3 linked regions of the Homo sapiens genome follow. The protein of the gene in region 3 interacts with the protein of the main gene of each other region in a pairwise test. Each region holds a gene or a part of one and is shown on either strand. Other genes may lie near its edges.

Region 1 (7,028 bases), on a different chromosome or scaffold from region 3:
AAATACCAAAAAAAAAAAAAAATTAGCCGGGCATAGTGGTGGGCGCCTGTAGTCCCAGCTACTCGGGAGACTGAGGCAGGAAAATGGCGTGAATCCGGGAGGCGGAGCTTGCAGTGAGCCGAGATTGCATCACTGCACTCCAGCCTGTGGAGACTGGACTTTTTCTGAGACTCCGTCTCAAAAAAAAAAAGCGAAAACTTAGCTTCTTTTAAGGAAAACCCAAACACAAGTGGAAGGGTATTTTCAATCTCTTGACGTGAAGGAGCAGTATTTGAAGGCTAGATTCTCCATCAGGTAATTTATTTGACTGGCTGTTCATATCACCTTGAAAGAATGGAGAGAGAAGTTCTTTTTGAGTGAAAGCCTTTGGTATTGAAGCTGGAGTGAAAGAATATTGACATAAATATTACAGTGATTTTTCTCTAAAATAATTCTTAAATCATGTAATCTCAAACAGCCAGAAAACTAAAATAAAACCATCAGACAAACTTTTTGTCCCCATGAGCATAGGAAAACCAGAACTAGCTTATTTTAAAACTAATCTCCCACGAACTGTCATATTATTCTCTCTGGTGTAAACAAAAGAAAATCAGTTGTAAGGTAGCAAGATAAAACGGGAAATTAGAATCAATAGTACTTTAGGCCAGAACATGAACAGCCACTAAGATTTGTCATGTTTTGGTTATTAAAAATAATTCAGCAGATCTCTAGAAGAATATGGAAAAAGCTGAAACAGTGGTTGCCTCTGGGGAGAGGAATTCTATGGCTAAATGATGAAGTATATGAGTGAGAAATTACTTCTTTTGCTATGTGCACGTATTATCTATTCAAAATACTCATTGTAATTTTTACTTAAAATATTCAGAAACATCCCTAAAATGTAAACATCATAAAGCTTTAATTATTGACACTAACAAAGCAGTGATGTGGAAGAATAATTCACAGTAATATTAATCACATCAGTAAGTATTGATTAGGCACTTTAACATCAGTTAATGGCCGGGCGTGGTGGCTCACCTCTGTAATCTGAGCACTTTGGGAGGCCAAGGTGGGCAGATCGCCTGAGCTCAGGAGTTCGAGACCAGCCTGGGTGACATGGTGAAATCCTGTCTCTACAAAAAAATACAAAAAATTAGCCAGGCATGGTGGCATGCACCTGCGGCCCCAGCTACTTGGGAGGCTGAGGTGGGAGGATCACTTGAGCCTGGGAGGTCAAGGCTGCAGTGAGCTGAGATCGCACCACTGCTCTCCAGCCTGGGTGACAGAGGGAGACCCTGTCTCAAAAAAAGAAAGAAAAAAAAATCAGTTAATGCTTTTTCCTCTTCAGTATAGGGTTCTAAAATGATTCCCTGTTTTTTGAAATGATAGAAGAGGGAGATAGAAAAATAAGTCACAGGACAGGAGTCTTCCTAGAAATACTGAAAAATACCTATTATTTTGTTATTTCATGAAGTCTCAAGCTAAGTTTAAAACTTCAACAACAACAAAATAGGCCTGGAAACCTTGGAATCCTAAGTCCAGCCCACAGACTTCCACTGAAACCCACTCTGCCTACTGAGCATGCCCAGTTAGCTCCTCATCACCAGCAGAGAGTTCTATCACAGACTTGAAAATATGATGAGACTGCAACAGTAGTGAGTTTAGACTGTGCTTGGTATTGAAGGGAGAAAAAAAATAGCATAAAGGAAAAGTAGATGACACTGAAAGAAAAGTCTCCCCAAACCAACCATGACCCTAAAGAGCCAGACCCTCGGCATGGAGGCTTCGCTATGTCTAGGGAAGTGAGGTGGGTGTTTAGGGTCCAGAAGCCTAGAAAATGTCATTAATTAAAAGGAAAAAGTAACAGGACAAGTGGGCAAGCAGGCAGGCCTCCATGCCTCCTTTTTTCTTTCTTTTTTTACTCCCAGCAAATTCGTGAATATTTGTGGAGGAGGAATTAAAACACTAGAAGCATTAGCCAATCAGAGCTTCCAAAAGGTCCACCTAAACTTAATACCTTAAAAGCATCAATGTGGCCGGGCGCGATGGCTCACGCCTGTAATCCCAGCACTTTGGGAGGCCAAGGCGGGCGGATCATGAGGTCAGGAGATCGAAACCATCCTGGCTAACACGGTGAAACCCCGTCTCTACTAAAAAATAAAAAAAATTAGCCGGGCGTGGTGGCGGGCACCTGTAGTCCCAGCTACTTGGGAGGCTGAGGCAGGAGAATGGCGTGAACCTGGAAGGCGGAGCTTGCAGTGAGCCGAGATCGTGCCACTGCACTCCAGCCTGGGCAACAGAGTGAGACTCTTGTCTCAAAAAAAAAAAAAATGCATCAATGTTATATCAGATGATGTAGGATTTTTCCGATTATAATTGTATTTACTGGCTAGGCCTGGGTTCACACCTGTAAAATCCCAACACTTGGGAGGCTAAGGTGGAAGGCTTACTTGAGGCCAAGAGTTAAGACCAGTCTGGGCAACATAGCAAGACCCTATCTCTACAAAAAGATTTTAAAATTAGTTGGGTGTGGTGGTGTTCACTTATAGTCCCAGCTACTCGGGAGGCTGAAGTGGGAGATTCCTTAAGCCCAGGAGTTCGAGGCTGCAGTGAGCCATGATCACACCACTGCCCTGTAGCCTGGGTGGTAGTGAGATCCTGTCTCAATAGTAATAATAATTGTATATACAAATAAACGTGTCCTTAATTTTTTTTTTTTTTTTTTAGCTTTCAGGAAACAGCCTTTTTTCATCACAGTGTGCTAAAAACACTTAGTTTTCTTGCTAATCAAAATAATTTTTTTTTTTTTTGAGACAGTTTCACTCTTGTCACCCTGGCTGGAGTGCAATGGTGCGGCCTCAGCTCACTGCAAACTCCGCCTCCTGGGTTCAAGCAATTCTCCTGCCTCAGCCTCCCGAATAGCTGGGATTACAGGCATGCACCACCACACCTGGCTAATTTTGTATTTTTAGTCGAGACAGGGTTTCACCACATTGGCCAGGCTGGTCTCGAACTCCTGACTTCAAGTGATCCGCCCGCCTCGGCCTCCCAAAGTGCTGGGATTATAGGCATGAGCCACCGCACCTGGCCTCAAAATAATTTTTAAAGTCAGTAGAACTTCCCATTTTTGAAGAAGAAATCTCATTTTCTTGAATGCTCACTTTTAGTCTTTAACACAATGTGTAATCTTTTGGGTAAGAAAACAGGAAACATTTATTTCTTAATATTTTAAGATATTTGAACAGCTTTATCTTTTATTTCCCAAGTGCCATATGAAGCATGTTATTATGGTAAATGTTAGTATAATGTATAATTTGCTATTATCATTTTAGTTGTGGTGGTTGTGATGTTTAATTGAGTGGGATGGCTTTTTTCCAGAATGGAATCACTAGTTCCCCTTGTACAGAGTTTGAAAAAACGGATGGAAGTACCAGACTATGAAATGGTAAATATTTTATATTAATGTGTAAAATTGACCCTTTGTAAAGACAATTTTCTGGGTAGAAGAATTTCCTTTTTGTTAAAGTGGTTCGTTTTTGTTTGTGTTCCTGTGAAGTCTGAAACAATTATTAAGAAAAGAAATGAGTGAAAAAAATACATACGTTGAAACAGAATACTGTTTTCCTGGAAAAGTCTTCCAGGAAAAACTTTTTTTTCTCAATTTTATGTATGAAGCAAAAGTCCTGTGTGTTTTTTGTAATTTTGTCTGTGGTCGGATCTCTCTTCACCAGACAAAAGAAAAGTACACAATTTCTAAAATGGTCCATTTTTTATTGATGAGTATTTATACTGCCTTCTGCCTTCCTTCTTTTCCTCCCTATTTAAAAACTTTTCCGTTTGTAAAAACCACAAGACAAAGAAAAAAGAGAGAGCTGTGACTAGCACATTTTAAATGTGTTAGCTGTTTGTCAACAGGTATCTGAATGCTATGGCCAAAGATACTTTTAGTCATAATTTATTTGTATATCATTTTGCAGTCTTTGAAGCATATATTTTCCCATTTGACCTGGTACTTGAGATGAGAAAGCTATAGCTTAAAATGTTCAAGTGACTTTTCTCAGATTTGATGCCAGGGCTAAGACTTCCAAGTCTCCTTCCTCTTAGTGTGGTCTTTCTCTTACTTCAGTAAGCTGGGTTTGCATATTTTATTTACTTATGGAATACAGTCAGACCACTGTGTTTGACTAAAGTTGAAGTATTGATTTAAGTATTGATTGAATTTATAAGAATTTGCTGGTACTCTTTAAAATAAGAGATGTCTATTTTCACACTGCTGATAAAGACATACCTGAGACTGGGCAATTTACAAAAGAGATTTAATGGACTTACAGTTCCATATGATTGGGGAGACCTCATAGTCATGGCGGAAGGTGAAAGGCAGGTCTCACATGGTGGCAGACAAGAGAGAGAGCTTGTGCAGGGAGACTTTTGTTTTTAAAACTGTGAGATCTCGTGAGACTCATTCACTATCATGAGAACAGCACAGGAAAGACCCACCCCTACAATTCAATCACCTCCCATCGGCTTCCTCCCACTACATGTGGGAATTGTGGGGGTTACAATTCAAGATGAGATTTGGATGGGGACACAGCCACACCATATCATTCCATCCTTAGCCCCTCCCAAATCTCCTGTTCTCGAATTTCAAAACCAATCCTGCCTTCCCAACAGTCCCTCAAAGTCTTAACTTATTTCAGCATTAACTCAAAAGTCCACAGTCCAACATCTCATCTGAGACAAGGCAAGTCCCTTCCACCTATGAGCCTGTAAAATCAAAAGCAAGTTAGTTACTTCCTAGATACAATGGATGTACAAGAATTGGGTAAATACAACCGTTCTAAATGGGAGGAATTGGCCCAAAGGGGCAGTGCAAGTCTGAAGTCCATCAGGGCAGTCAAATCTTAAAGCTCCAAAACGATCGTCTTTGACTCCATGTCTCACATCCAGGTCACGCTGATGCAAGAGGTGGGTTCGCATTGTCTTGGGCAGTTCTGCCCCTGTGGCTTTGCGGGATACAACCTCCCTCCTGGCTGTTTTCATGAGCTGGTGTTGAGTGTCTGCAGCTTTTCCAGGCACACAGTACAAGCTGTCAGTGGATCTACCATTCTGGGATCTGGAGGACGGACAGTGGCCCTCTTCTCACAGCTCCACTAGGCAGTGCCCCTAGGGACTCTCAGTGGGGATCCGACCCCACATTTCCCTTCCACACTGCCCTAGCAGGGGTTCTCCATGAGGGGCCTGCCCCTGCAGCAAACTTCTGCCTGGGCATCCAGGTGTTTCCATACATCTTCTGAAATCTGGGCAGAGGTTCCCAAACCTCAATTCTTGACTTCTGTGCACTCACAGGCTTGATCAACACCACAAGGAAGCTGCCAAGGCCATCCTCTGAAACCACAGCCCGAGCTCTATGTTGGCCCCTTTTAGCCATGGCTGGAATGGCTGAGACACAGGACACCAAGTCCCTAGGCTGTACACAGCACTGGGACCCTGGGCCCTGCCCATGGAACAATTTTTTCCTCCTAAATCTTCAGGCCTGTGATGGGAGGGGCTACCGCAAAGGTCTCTGACATGCCCCAGATACATTTTCCCTATTGTCTTGGGGATTAACATTTGGCTCCTCGTTACTTATGCAAATTTCTGCAGCCAGCTTGAATTTCTCCTCAAAAAATGGAATTTTCTTTTCTTTAACATTGTCAGGCTGCAAATTTTCCAAACTTTTATGCCCTGTTTCTCTCTTAAAACTGAATGCCTTGGCCAGGCACAGTGGTTCACGCCTATAATCCCAGCACTTTGGGAGGCCAAGGCTGGCGGATCATTTGAGGCCAGGAGTTCAAGACCAACCTGGCCAACATGTTGAAACCCCGTCTCTACTAAAAATACAAAACTTAGCTGGGTGTGGCAGTGCACACCTGTAATCCTAGCTACTCAGGAGGTTAAGGCAGAGAATCGCTTGAACCTGAGAGGCAAAGGCTGCAGTGAGCCGAGATGGTACCACTGCACTCCAGCTTGGGTGACAGAGCGAGACTCCATTTCAAAAAAAAAAAAAACTGGATGCCTTTAACAGCACCCATGTCACCTCTTGAATGCTTTGCTGCTTGGCAGTTTCTTCCACCAGATATGCTAAATCATCTCTCAACTTCAAAGTTCCACACATCTCTAGGGCAGGGGCAAAATGCCACCAGTCTCTTTGCTAAAATATAACAAGAGTCACCTTTGTTCCAGTTCCCAGCAAGTTCTTCATCTCCATCTGAGACCACCTCAGCCTGGATTTCATTGTCCATGTCATTATCAGCATTTTGGTCCAAGCCATTCAACAAGTCTCTAGGAAGTTCCAAACTGTCCAACATTTCCCTGCCTTCTTCTGAGCCCTCCAAACTGTTCCAACCTCTGCCAGTTCCAAAGTTGCTTCCACATTTTCAGGTATCTTTTCAACAGTGCTCCACTCTACTGGTACCAATTTACTGTATTAGTCTGTTTTCACGCTGCTGATAAAGACATACCCAAGACTGGGCAATTTACAAAAGAAAGAGATTTAATGGACTTAGTGTTCCACATGATTGGAGAGGCCTCACAATCATGGCAGAAGGTGAAAGGCACATCTCACATGGCAGCAGACAAGAAGAGAGAGCTTGTGCAGCGAGACTTGTGTTTTTAAAACCATCAGATCTCCAGCCGGGCATAGTGGCTCACATCTGTAATCCCAGCATTTTGGGAGGCCGAAGCGAGCAGATCACCTGAGATCGGGAGTTCGAGACCAGCCTGACCAGCATGGAGAAACCCCATCTCTATGAAAAACACAAAATTAGCCGGGCGTGGTGGCGCATCCCTGTAATCCCAGCTACTCGGGAGGCTGAGGCAAGAGAATCGCTTGAACCCAGGAGGTGGAGTTTGCAGTGAGCCAAGATCATGCCATTGTACTCCAGCCTGGGCAAAAAGAGTGAAACTCTGTCTCAAAAAAAGTAAATAAATAAAACTGTCAGATCTCCTGATACTCATTCGCTATCATGAGAACAGTGCAGGAAAGACCCACCCCCACAGTCACCTCCCAC
Region 2 (7,028 bases), on a different chromosome or scaffold from region 3:
AAACTGTGATGCTTCCTGAGACTGATGGTCTGAAGGAGTACCTGGTCTAGCAGATGATGATGAGGTCTGGGGAGTTTCCTCACTAGCTTCTGGAACACGAAGTAATCTTAGTTGAACTTACGAAAGTTTTGGTTTGATGGAGGAAAAAAAAGGCAAAGGGCAAGAAGAGGCCTTACCAACTCCTACTCTATCTGTTTTCTCTCCTTCTTTCTTATTTGTCTTATCGGGTTCTTTGGCCTCTTCATTATGGCTACCCTCAGAGTCAGAGCACTCCTCCCCTTCGTCCACAGGCCGGAAGTCCATCTCCTGCTCTTCTGGAATAGGCTCTTTCTGTACTTTCTGTAGAAAGAGAATAAAACCAAAGATCAACAGCAGATTTGGCTTTGGTATAAGGTTAATGCTGGTCATGACATTTAAAACACGTTTCTTACTTTTAGAGAAAGGAATGCTCCAGATGAGTCAAATGTACCCATTTCTTCTTCAGCATCCTCTAAGCACCATTCGGGCAAGCTATCCCTGTCATCATCTATGCTCCCACTGCCAGAGCGAACCCTTCGGTAACCCCGTTCATCATCTCTATCTCGAAAATCAAACTCAAACCTCCGACGTCGTTCCATGTGTTCCCGCCAGCCTGCAGAACGAGGGCCATCTGAGATGAGAAGGAGGACACAAACCTTAGAAAAGTTTTATGACAGTATTTGAATAAGAAAATCAGGAATAGAAAATAAAGGAGAAAACTACAAGTGACCGCAAACTCAAATGGACTGACCTAGTAAAGAGAACATTAGGCAACTAAATGAAGTTCAGAGTTCAGAGTATATGTACCATTACGAGATGACAACAGTACTTAAGTACTGAGCCAGGCAACATACTCTAAAGCTTTAAAAGATAAATCTAAAATGCAGTACATTTAAAGGACACTGTATTCCAAGTACGCACTTTCAGTAAGTCCTAGGTACTTGATTAAAATACTGATTAGCCGCCAACTCCTCATCCAGACTTAATGCACTAGACATCCTTCCATACTGAAGTTTACACCTTCCTTTTGCCCAATCTTAAAGCATTTTCTTTCTTCCCATGAAAATATCATTGTTTGTGGATAAAATCAGCTCCCTGTGTTGACTTATATCAAACTCATCATGACTATTTATTAATGCCAGGTTCCCACTTGTAATTCTGATCCTCCCCCAAAAATTCACAAAATTACAGTGCTGAAAGTTGTCACAGAGATTTTATGAAGTTCACTATCCTAATTTTATAGTTTAAGAAGAAACTAAAACTTTGCCAGCAGAAGTAACTCGCACATGGCAAAGTAGAACTAAAATCCAATTCTGCACCCTCTGCTGCTTGTTCCACAATAACATACTTACTCCTCTCCCTTCTTTCTCATCTCTTAATTCTCCCTATCCATATAATACCCCTACGGACATTCCCAAATCTACATTTCCCAACAGAAGAAAAGATTGCCTAATAATAAGAGATCCTACTTAAGATATTTTTCTAAAAAAAAGAAAGGGAAACTCTTGCTAAAATCTGACAGACCTGAGTCTAAAAGAGTCTTAAAAAGAAAAGCAGGCTTTAACCTATTAGAATTTTCCATCCTTGACTGCTTTCTCTGTGGGGGATAAGAAAAAGAAATGTGGCCAGAGTTAAATGTTCTCACTATTGAGACAAACTTTGCAAAAACCAGCAATCTAAAAATCAAATTGGAAAACAAAGGGCAAAACGTTAAAATGCCAAATACAGGTAGCATCTGATAAGCCACTCACAAAAAAGAAATCTTAGTCCCACACTCCCATCCCTTCATATAAAAACAACAAAACACTATTTACTACTTCCTATGAGAACTAAGGAATTTTATACTCAGACTGCTTACGTGGAAACCTAGAGCCATTATGTGAAAAGAGTCTTCATGATCAAATGAATTCCAGAGCCCTCTGTACTGCTTTCATTTCTAACAGTCTAAATGTACATCATGACAGGAATCTATCCTTCTAGGTACCTGGCTCATGTTTCTCCTCTTACTGACTTTCCTAGGTTCAGCTCCCAGACTGGATGCCTCCCTGTCCTTAATGTTCCCACCCCCACGCACATCCAGCCGGAAGCCCTATTTTATATCCCATAATGTTATCTTATCAGTAGTTCATAAAATTTTACTCACGAAACTAAACATAGCAAGTAAGACATGCAAGGTACTTATTAAGGCTGACTGCTGATTTACAGACCCTACATCTAAACTAAAGTTGGATACTATTTTCATAAAATCAGTTAAAATAATTTAAAGTTTTACTCAAATCTTAATAAAAGATTAACCATAAACTAACAAACGTTAAGAGTTAACATATGAAAACTGCTATAATCAGGCTATACTTTGAATATACTGGGTTTAAAAAGTGAATCGTATTCTTTTTTAAAATGCATTTACACTGTTTTTTCAGACCCAAACTTTATATTTGGGGGATCTTTATATCCCCCAAACTGTCTTTTAAAAATATATGGATTTCAGCCACAGGTGTGACTGAAAAAATATATATGTATATGGATTAAAAGTTCTGGAAGATACACAAGTTGATGACAAAAATGATATGAAAGTCAAATATTAGGGGGAAAGAAAGATTCAGAAAAGATGAGAAGAAGATAATATATAACCAAATTCTAAGTTGTTGGGTGGGAGGTACTTTGTTAAACTCCCTTTAATAGAATCAACATCAGACATTTGGGCTCAAAAAACACAGTTCATCTTCCAAAACATTCACCTTGTTTGTTTTTGACCAGCTGGAATTTCTTTTCTCTCTCAGCCCAGATCCTATCCATTCTTCACTGAATGCTTGTTGGGAACATAGTCTACAAACCCTCTGCCTACGGACAAGCTCAGCATAAAATGCAGTGATGCCTTTTAGAGAACTATAACATCTGGCCCAGGTCACAGACTAATGAAAATTGTCTAGACCTTGTGATGTAAACAATGCCCACTAATGACAGAAAACCCACCCAAGAGGCAGCCATGAAGAGTTGGTATAAAACCATCCTAACTCTACCCAAACATTAACTTCAGTATGTTTCTATCTACCTACCACTTCCTTAAAATACTCTGAATGCCTGTTATAATGTCTACCCAGATCTAAGCTAGTGGTTTTGCTAATAACTTGATTTTTAAAAGTGAAAACAGTTTACTTATCATAATTTCCTGTATTAAAGGTAAGCCCCTCTGGCACATGGTTGATAAAATACTGTCATACACATGAAATTCATAGGGCATTCCACATATACTCTGTGTGCTTCAGTTTTGCATGACCCCACAATTGGAACTACAGTTGCATCTGATTATCATGAGGCATGGAATCAGCACTGTGGTACAGGATGAACTTTAACACAAAGCACTAGTGTCTTCAATTACTAGCATATCTAATGTCCAAGAAGAACAGTTTGAGCATTTTTAAGAGACAAACAGAAGAACTTTAAAAGCCACTAATCACTACTATTGTCTCTCCTTCTTCTAAAGTTAGAAGGACATAAGAATGAACTTGTGATTATGTTTCTGACCTAGGTTTAAAGCTTATTCTTCAAATAAGGTTAAATCACATTTTCAAAAGGGAAAAAATGAAAGAATAAACCCTTTCTTGTTAGGAAAAACACTCATTGTTGGGGAGGGAAGCACATATTTCAAGTGTGTAATTTTTACACATTTATAAATCTTAAAGAATGCTAAAAAAGATTCAGAGATTTAGAGGTAGACAAAACTGAATGAAACCCTCATTTCTGCAGTTGAGCGCAGGTGCTTCCCATTAAACTACACTATTTGCCCCAGAAAAATAGAAAAGTGATTTCAATCAACTGAATAGATGTAGGAAATTTTTATGTTGCAATTTTTTCTAGTAATAAAACTGTGACAGCATAAATAATATGAATCCACCCCCACATTTTTTAAGCCAGTTTATCTTTTTCATTTAATCCCTATTTCCATCAAACTTTCCCTTATTTCAGTCCCTGTGTGCCTTTACTCAACAGAATTCTTACCAGGACTGTGAGGTCGCCACCTCTCTCCATCCCTCCTTGATCCAGCTAGTCGCCAACCTCCATCTTCATCTTCTCCATTTTGTTCCTCTCTAAAGATGCGCCAATTTTCACTTTCTGAGCGTATAAATTCATGCTTTCTCCCTACTGATGTTGGTCCACCTTCCTCAAAATTTGGTCTCCCTATAAAGAAAATAATATGGTAAGTAAACATGAGCCTCTGCCAGTATAGGCTTTGAAAACAAACTTCACAGCTCAAATCAAGCTTTCCTGCAAATGGGTCCATTTCAATATTCAGAAAAAAATCACTAAAATAACAGTGGGTATATGTATATATTATTAGACACATTTCTTAAAGCCATGTTCAGAGACTGGGCAATTTTTTTAAACAAAAATATTATGTAAAATTTTTTTTGAAAAAGCGTACAATGAAAAGTCCATCTTCCTACACAAGACCCTCAGAGTCGTACTCCCCAGAAGGAACCATCACCAAGTTTCTTATAAAGTCTTTCCAAACACTGTCCATGGGTACACTTACACATGTATACATAGCTCCCTCATCCACACACACAAACGCCACCCTCAGGATGTTATAAATGTTGTTTTGTTTGCTGTTTTCACTAACAGTGTATCTTGCCAATCCTTCCTTACTAGCACATACTTTTTAAAGTTATAAGATATTTTTCATCATACAACATACTTTATATAACCAACACCTACTGGTGATTCTGCCTAAACATGATATCTGTACATTTCAGGCCGTCTTTCATTCCAAAACAGATTATAAACTGAAAAGCAGGCCGCGTGGTGGCTCACGCCTATAATCCCAGCACTTTGGGAGGCCGAGACAGGTGGATCACGAGGTCAGGAGTTGGGAGACCAGCCTGGCCAATGTGGTGAAACCTCATGTCTACTCAAAATACAAAAATTAGCTGGGTGTGGTGACAAGTGCCTGTAATCCCAGCTACTCAGGAGGCTGAGGCAGGAGAATGGCTTGAACCCAGGAGGCGGAGGTCGCGGTAAGCAGAGATCGCGACACTGTACTCCAGCCTGGGTGACAGAGCAAGACTCCGTCTCAAAAAAAAAAATTGAAAAGTAGTATAACCTCATTTACTCTAGCACCTAATACAATACAGGCATACCATAAATTGCTTTTGGACAGAATTTAAAGCTAAGCTATGTCTAACCTAATGTCTCAAAAGTTACATTAATGTCAAAAGAGAGCCTGGTATACCAAGTAAACTAAACTGGTATTTTAAAAGGACAAGATCATTCTAAATTGTGCAAACAAATTCTTCAGTCACCATTCCACATGTGCTAACATATATAACTCATAACATTTATAAAATCTCACATCAAAATAGTTGAAAATCCAGAATAACATACATTGATGTCCTCAGTTTATAACAATAAAAGTTCAAGTTCTCATAATGACAAACTCAATCCTTTTAATTAATCCATACTAAAAGTGAAAAAATAATTGAACAACAGCATATGAAAATGAAATTCTAATTTCTGGTCATTCTGTTATATTCCATCTTACATATATTGAGATTCAGCATCCTGCTTGTCCATATGGTTGTTAGTCTGCTACTAGGTATCATTCTACTGAAAGATAAAATATCTTGGGAGAATGGAAGACATGATCTGCTGCTTTCTTATTGTGGTGGACAGCCTCTAAGAGCTCACCAACAATCCCTGACTGCTGATCTCTGTGGAATCCTCTACCCCCAATTATAAGCTGGACTAACAGAATGCAGCTGAAGTGATGAGATGCCACTTAAAATATTAAAGAAGACTGTAGTTTCCATCTTGGACACTTTCTCTGAAGGACACTAGTTGCCATGTAGTGACACAGACCTCGTGGAGAAGCTTGCATGGCAAAGAACTGAGACTTACCACCAGAAACATGAGTGAGTCTGGAAGTGGATCAAACCCCAGTTGAGCTTTGAGAGACTGCAGCATGGGCTGACACCTTGAGTGCAGCCTTACAAGAACCCTGGGCCAGAACCACCCAGCTAGGCTAAGCTGCTTCTAGATTCCCAACCCACAGAAACTGAGATAATAAATGTTTGCTGTTTTGAACCACCAAGCAAGGGTTTTATTATCTATGACCTTGCTCTTACCTGCAGGACGTGTCTGGAATGTCAGAACTATATTCTGGCTTTCCTTGGTTTATTAGTCCATTTTGCATGGCTATAAAGGAATACCTGAGGCTGGGTAATTTATTAAAAAAAAAAAAAGAAGAAGAAGTTGTTTATTTGGCTCGTGGTTCTGCAGACTATACAAGCATGGCACCAGCATCTGTCTGGCTTCCAGTGAGACCTCAGGAAGCTGTTACTCATTGTGGAAGGTGAAGTGAGAGCAAGTATGTCACATGGTGAGAGAGGGAGCAAGAAAGATGACAGAGATCCCAGACTCTTGAACTCATTACAGTGGGGAGGGGATGAGGGATCCACCCTCATGACCCAAACACCTCCCACCAGGCCCCACCTCCAACACTGGCGATCACATTTCAACATGTGATCTGGAGGGGACAAACATCCAAACTATATCACTTGGTTTACCAGAGAAGTCATAATCTAAATCTATTGTAGTTATTATGTAATATCTGATATATCAAAAACCATATTGCAGCTTTTATAAATTATTTTGTGGCCAGGCGCGGTGGCTCACACCTGTAATCCCAGCACTTTGGGAGGCTAAGGCGGGCAGATCACGAGGTCAGATCAAGCTAACACGATGAAACCCCATCTCTACTAAAAATAGAAAAAATTAGCCGGGCGCGGTGGCGGGCGCCTGTAGTCCCAAGCTACTCAGGAGGCTGAGGCAGGAGAATGGCATGAACCTGGGAGGTGGAGCTTGCAGTGAGCCCAGATCACGCCACTGCTCTCCAGCCTGGGTGACAGAGCAAGACTCCGTCTCAAAAAAAAAAAAAAAAAAAAAGAAATTATTTCGTGTAAGTAGCTAGAACCTCAGGCACATGCCACCACACTCAGCTAAATTTAAAATTT
Region 3 (7,028 bases):
TTTACTCATTAAAACATAACTGTTTTAAAGTCTACTGATGAGGATGGAAATAAACATGATGCTAGATAGCTTTATCCATTTTCCTGATTAGCTGTCTATTACATATATTACATTAGCTTAAATATATATATGTAGGTTTATAATATTTATAGATATATTAGATTTATATATCCATTTTCCCAATTAGCATTCTCCTCTTAGCTGTTGAATTTGTGGCAAAGTACTTCAAAAGAATTAGAAAGGATTTGCCTTATAGTATTGTGCTTTATAGTATTATAGTATAATACATTGAAGCAACACAGATTTTAAATAATGTTCGATTGTGTTTTCATGTTTAGCATTAACTCCTGCAAAATTTTTAAATATTCTTTATATAATTTTAGAATTTAGCTTCAACCTTTGCTTTGGACTTCAACTAGCAGAGGTTTTACAACAGGGGGCAGGAACAATCACCCAAGGTCTTCAAGAACATAAGGGGTTAAAAAAAAGAAATTTAAAGTGTATGTGTGTTTAAGTAACTGCTAAAGATCTCAGAGTTCAAAGAAATACTTTACTAAGAAAGCACATCTTAAAAATAGCATTTCTTTATCTTTTTGACAAGTGTAAACATTTTTAAGGCAAAAAATTACATAGCTGTTTCTGGTGGTTGAAACAAGTGATCAGAAGCCAAGGAGTTATTCTGTTTAGATTCTTAAAGCAAGTTGAAGTAAAACTCCTGAGTGCCTGACTTCTTGACATCTGCCCTTTTATTTTTCTAAGAACAAAAAACAGCGCATGATGGTTCGAGCTGCAGTTTTAAAGATGAAGGATCCAAAACAGATAATCCGAGACATGGAGAAATTGGATGAAATGGGTAAGAATTTACAAACAGGCAGCTATAACAGTCTGACACGTACAGAGGCAGGCAGGTAACGAGTGAAGCAGCATAGGCGTAAGTAAAACAGAACAGCATGATGGCATTTGATGCTTGGATTTAATGTTAGTTTCAGGGAGACAAAATGGAGTGCTAGAGGGCTGTTGCAAACTGGAGACCCCAGATACCAGAATAAGAGGGAAGCGATTATTTGGCTTTCAGTTAATTGTTATTGTGAGATAACAGAAGCACAGTTTGGCCAGCTTGCTTTTTGGGAGAAGACTTAATCTGATTTATGAAATAACCTTGGGTTTTTTGTTTGTCGTCTTTTATTTAATGTTGGCAACTACCATGTAAATCTAAGTATTAGGCCCCTGTGAATATAAGGCAATTTCCAATTTTTCCAATCAGAAGATCCAAAAAGATACTTATCCATTTAGTAAGGATATAGAAAAAAATCATCAAATACCTAAAAACCAAATAATAAAATACTATACCAGGATTCTCTGCCTTTTTCACATTTTATAGAATAGTTTTATTCACTCTTCATATGCATTTTAAGTATCGCTGCTTTGTTATAACTGGAATCACATGAAATAGCTGCATGTTATCTTTTTTTGCATCTAAGTTTGAAAATCATTGATGTTGCCACTGGAAATTTTATCCTAACCCACAAATATCCATTCTGTTTAATATTAGAACATGTAGAATATTTTGTTTTTTTAATAGAAATTTTCAAACATGCAAGAAAATAAAATAGTCTAGTTAACTTCCATGTGCTTTTCACCTGTCAAGTTTCTGCCACTTTGTCTTCTACCCTTTGCCACTTTTGTAAAATAGCATTTTAAAGTGATCGTTACAAGTTCCATGTTTTGCCCAAAAACAGAGTAGTAAGTAAAAGAGATGGAATGAAACTCCTCAATGATACATTAAATGGGGTACAAAAAAAAAATTCAGTCATGGCATTAGGCTATTACAAGGTTTCTGAAATAATGTGGGAGAATCTGTGCAGCTAGCCTGGCTAAGAGTTCTGGGTCAGGCTTCAGGATCCCAGATATTTCCCAGTTCAGTTGTAACTGATTCCACTTCCTGCCTCTGGTCTAAATATCAGCAGGGATAATTACTTTCCTTGGGGAATCAGGGAATCCTTCTTTAAATGACCCCAAATGTTATGTGTTGTTTTAAAAGGAGATAATAGGAATAACTGAGGTTTCTTGAGTAGTTGTCTTGCTATACACCTACGCACCAGTTTTTTTCCACCAGTTTTCTAATCGTCACAATTTTTTAGGGTAGGTGCACTGTCCCTATTATACAGGTAAGAAAACTCAGGCATGGAGAGATTACATAGCTTTCCTCAAGGTCACACTGCTATGTAGTGGCAAAGCTGAGATTAAAACTCAGGCATTCAGCGCTTTTACTAATCACACTAGGATTAGTATGGTGTAAGAATACGCCCTCTGGATTTGAATAAATTGCCAAGATTAATAATAGTTAATAGGATTTAAGGAAGAAGATAAATTTGTTATTCTTTTAAGAAAAAGGAAAGGGGTGAAGAGAATACTATTCATCAGGGGTCTAGTTACAATTTATAAAACTCAATACAGACTAGTTAAGGCAGAAAAAAGCATGCATTGGCTGTCTTAATTAAGAAGTCTTAACATAAAAAAAAGATGAGAAATCCCTGAGAGAAACTAGCCTCAAAATCCAGTCTCATCATCAGTACTGTCCATCTGTCTAGTCTGATGTCTGTTAGCCTCATTCAGCTTACTACTAATGAACTCCTTGGGATAGAAGGTGGAATATATGTGTGTAATTAGTGATGATTGAGAGACAAGGCCACAGGCAGCTCTAGGTTTGTTTTCTCTCTACATAACACATTCAGAAAGAAAATCTGAGAGCTTATCTCTCTCACATCTACATTTAAAATCTCAGGGAATGTTCTGGTCCCAGTTTGGATCATGTGCTAATTGATCTCTGAGTCATTCACTGAAAAGGAAGATGGGGGGATATGATTGACCAGGCAGGCCTGGAGGTCTTATTCTTGGGATAGAGGACCTGCAGTTAAGCCCCATATTGACACATGATTAGTTAGGGAGAGAAAGGATTGTATAGTAGCTAGGCCAGGAATACGGATCTGTTATAAAGATTATAGTTAAGTGGTGAGTCAAACACCACTGGATATTTTATTTGTAATCCCATTGTATCATCATAGCTTTATTACAAAGTGATTAACGTCTCCATTTTTTAGATGAGGAAGCAAAAAATCAGAGAATTCAAGTAAAATGCTTAAGATCTCAAAATTTGACAGGACTAACGTAGTAGGTAAACACAAATCTGACAGAATCTTCACGAGGTTTTCAGCACAGAGCAGTGAAAATTGATTTTTATTACAATGAAGATGAAAGTCAATTAGGTGGCATTTCTGAGAAAGGTAAAATTAGTGGCCATCTAAAAAGGGTGGGGATTTTAATAAATATTGTAGTTCTTCGAATAAAATTGAAAAGAGTATGTCTGGTGTCTAGATCTCTTAAAAATTTTTTAGCATATATGGAGGTTTTTATCATGTAACCTATTGATACCTAATTGAAGTGGCCTCTTATATTTAATTCCATAATCTACTTTTTCTCTTAGAGTTTAACCCAGTGCAACAGCCACAATTAAATGAGAAAGTACTGAAAGACAAGCGTAAAAAGCTGCGTGAAACCTTTGAACGTATTCTACGACTCTATGAAAAAGAGAATCCAGATATTTACAAAGAATTGAGAAAGCTAGAAGTAGAATATGAACAGAAGAGGGCTCAACTTAGCCAATATTTTGATGCTGTCAAGGTAATCAAGGTTTTTTTTTTGAGAGATAAACTAAAATATTATACAGATTGAGTATCCCTTATGCAAAGTGCTTGGGACCAGAAGTGTTTTGGATTTAGGGTTGTTGGGTTTTTTTTATATTTTGTTTTGTTTTTGTGTATATTTGCATATATTTTGGGGATGGAACCCTAGTCTAAGCATGAAATTTATGTTTCATATACACATAGCCTGAAGATAATTTTATAAATTTTGTGCATGAAACAAAACTACGACCCATCACATTAGGTCAGGTGTGGATTTTTCCACCATGGCATCATATGGGAGTCAAAAAGTTTAGGATTTTGGAGCATTTTAGATATTCAGATTAGGGATGCTCAGCCTATACTTAGATTTAAAAAGTTAATGGGAGAATGTCATGTTGAACCTCTTCCTTATAGCAGTTTCTTCTAAAACTAAACATATACCTACTGTGTGAACCTGCAAATCTAATCCTCTTTATTTAAACAGAAGAAATTAATTCAAAAACTTGGATCAGCCTAAGTGTTCACTAATAGGATAATGGATAATTAAACTGTAGCATATTTATACAATAGAATACTATTCAGCAATAAAAGGAATAATCTAATACTCAAAACAGCATGGAATAAAAAAAGAAAAATTGTGAGTAAATCTCAAAAACATGCTAAGTTTATCTCATTGTTATGATTTCATTTTTATGAAATTCTAGAATAGTCACAGATAATCTGTGCAGGAAAAAAAAATGTAGCCGTGGTTGCCTTGGGGGATGATATTAGAGATGGATTGGGAAGGAGTATGAGGTATATGCATTTGTCAAAACTTACTGAATTTGTAAATTTCGTAAATTTTACCTCAAAATAAAGATGGGAAAAAATCAAATGCTATAATTTCTGTAAAGGAGGTAATATGTCTCCCATTTTACAGATGAAGGCACAGGTTACCTTGCTTAGTCAAACTAAGCTAATACACAACAGAAATTCAACATAGGCAAGCTAATGAGCCCAACCTCCACCACTGGATATATACTATTTGTTAGTTGACATATATTATTTTTCTTTTTTTTGTTTATTTTTTGTTTTTGAGACCGAGTCTCACTCTGTTGCCCAAGCTGGAGTGCAGTGGCACCATCTTGGCTCACTGCAACCTCTGCCTCCCAGGTTCAAGCAATTCTCCTCCCTCAGCCTCCTGAGTAGCTGGGACTACAGGCACACGCCACCACAACTGGCTAATTTTTGTAGTTTTATTAGAGATGGAGTTTCACCATATTGGCCAGGCTGGTCTCAAACTCCTGAGCTTGTGATCGACCTGCGTCAGCCTCCCAAAATGCTCGGATTACAGGTGTGAGCTACCACGCCCAGCCTGACATGTATTTTTCTATCACATGTTAAATAGGGTAGTTCTGGTGCTAGATACTTGTAACAGTTGGCTTTCTCTAGACAACAGCTGTTTCGAATCATCCAAAAAGAATTACCTGATAAGAGGAGAAAAAAAACAGCTGGGTTCTGACGTTTTTAGAAGTAAAGATTTCTTTCAGTTCTTTGACAATGTGGAAGTATTGACGTAAGGTTATTTTTCTGGGGGTTTTTGGTGATATTTATGTTAGTTGGAAAGCATGTCCAAGTTACGAAACAGCTGACTTGTCATTTTTAGTGTTTAGTTAGTAGATGACTTTTTTATCATACTACTGAATGGTTCTCTGTTTCAGAATGCTCAGCATGTGGAAGTGGAGAGTATTCCTTTGCCAGATATGCCACATGCTCCTTCCAACATTTTGATCCAGGACATTCCACTTCCTGGTGCCCAGCCACCCTCTATCCTAAAGAAAACCTCAGCCTATGGGTAAGGAAGCAGTGTCACAATCAGAGAGCATTTAGTAAAGGCACAAGTTGACTGTCCAGTGCCAAAATTAATGCAGAGGGAAATAAAAGACAATATGGATGTAAACAGTGTGACATTTGATTAAATGTAAAATAAGAAATCCCTTGAAAATTGTTTAGAAGAGAAAATAAATATCTCATTACTGTTAAGTGATTACTGTGGGGGTTTTTTTGTTTTTGTTTTTTTTTTTAACAGACCTCCAACTCGGGCAGTTTCTATCCTTCCTCTTCTTGGACATGGTGTTCCACGTTTGCCCCCTGGCAGAAAACCTCCTGGCCCTCCCCCTGGTCCACCTCCTCCTCAAGTCGTGCAGATGTATGGCCGTAAAGTGGGTTTTGCCCTAGATCTTCCCCCTCGTAGGCGAGATGAAGACATGTTATATAGTCCTGAACTTGGTGAGAAGTGACTGTTCTTTTGCTTTTATAACTATCATTTTTTATGTTGGCCCTGTTTAACATATTGTTCACCACCCTCAGAACTTAGAAAGTAAATGAGAGGGTATCATGTACATAACTAATATACATACAGTTGGATAAATCATAGGATCTTCTCAAGTAAAAGCATCATACATAAGTATAGAAATGTTTATCGTGTTTTAAATTAGGCTTTTCCTGGAGATGTCACTCTTGCTGCTAATCCTTTAAGACTTGTATATCTGGTTCCCTTTTAGCTTTATTGTCATCAGACTAGAGCGTCATTGTATACATTCACTGACTGTGTATGTGTATACAAACATGATTGTTGCTAAAGGAGGAAATGGGTTTTCAAATTAGAACTCTTTTTAAAAAAATCTTAAATTACCAAAAAGAAGTGTTTAAAATTATTGGCAGAGGAAAATTTTGTTAGACTGTATGAGTAGCTATATATACAAGAATTTTTTTTTTTTTTTTTTGGTAAGAATTAAGTTGTTACAGTCTGAGTTGAATAGCATAATTTTCTGTATTTCTGGGTACCATGTAGTGGAGGGTCCAATCATACTACTTCTCCATGTTCCCTTCCCACTTTTCAGCCCAGCGAGGTCATGATGATGATGTTTCTAGCACCAGTGAAGATGATGGCTATCCTGAGGACATGGATCAAGATAAGCATGATGACAGTACTGATGACAGTGACACCGACAAATCAGATGGAGAAAGTGACGGGGATGAATTTGTGCACCGTGATAATGGTGAGAGAGACAACAATGAAGAAAAGAAGTCAGGTATGTGCAGATGAAGGATTCATGGTATTGATCAATAAAGAGAAAACAAGCTGAAGGTCCTAATTTATTAATGAATCTGTGAGAGTACTCTGAAATCTTTGGAAGTCGGGATCATAGCTGTGTTCATCTTATATATTAAAATTTTGAAAGTTTTTGACACAGTAAGTACTCAGTGGATGTTTATGAGGAAAAGCATTAAACTGTATGTAATAAAAATGTCTATGTAATAAAGTTCACTTTGGGGTAAAAGGTATAACTATTCAACAGCATA

The links. The genes of interacting proteins can lie anywhere in the genome.
Region 1: the proteins of WBP11 (region 3) and C5orf22 interact in binary tests that used the Homo sapiens proteins (3 or more experiments, as listed by UniProt).
Region 2: the proteins of WBP11 (region 3) and GIGYF2 interact in a two-hybrid assay, tested with the Homo sapiens proteins (one study listed by IntAct).

What each region holds. Positions count from the first base shown.
Region 1 is NC_000005.10:31,542,289-31,549,316, forward strand, and holds part of C5orf22 (UPF0489 protein C5orf22), read left to right. Parts: intron 1-3,357; coding exon 3,358-3,424; intron 3,425-6,201; coding exon of another isoform or gene 6,202-6,399; intron 6,400-7,028.
Region 2 is NC_000002.12:232,784,319-232,791,346, reverse strand, and holds part of GIGYF2 (GRB10-interacting GYF protein 2), read right to left. Parts: intron 4,198-7,028; coding exon 4,018-4,197; intron 650-4,017; coding exon 432-649; intron 340-431; coding exon 177-339; intron 90-176; coding exon 1-89. UniProt on the Homo sapiens protein: Key component of the 4EHP-GYF2 complex, a multiprotein complex that acts as a repressor of translation initiation. In the 4EHP-GYF2 complex, acts as a factor that bridges EIF4E2 to ZFP36/TTP, linking translation repression with mRNA decay.
Region 3 is NC_000012.12:14,793,460-14,800,487, reverse strand, and holds part of WBP11 (WW domain-binding protein 11), read left to right. Parts: intron 1-759; coding exon 760-853; intron 854-3,484; coding exon 3,485-3,681; intron 3,682-5,383; coding exon 5,384-5,517; intron 5,518-5,751; coding exon 5,752-5,951; intron 5,952-6,565; coding exon 6,566-6,757; intron 6,758-7,028. UniProt on the Homo sapiens protein: Activates pre-mRNA splicing. May inhibit PP1 phosphatase activity.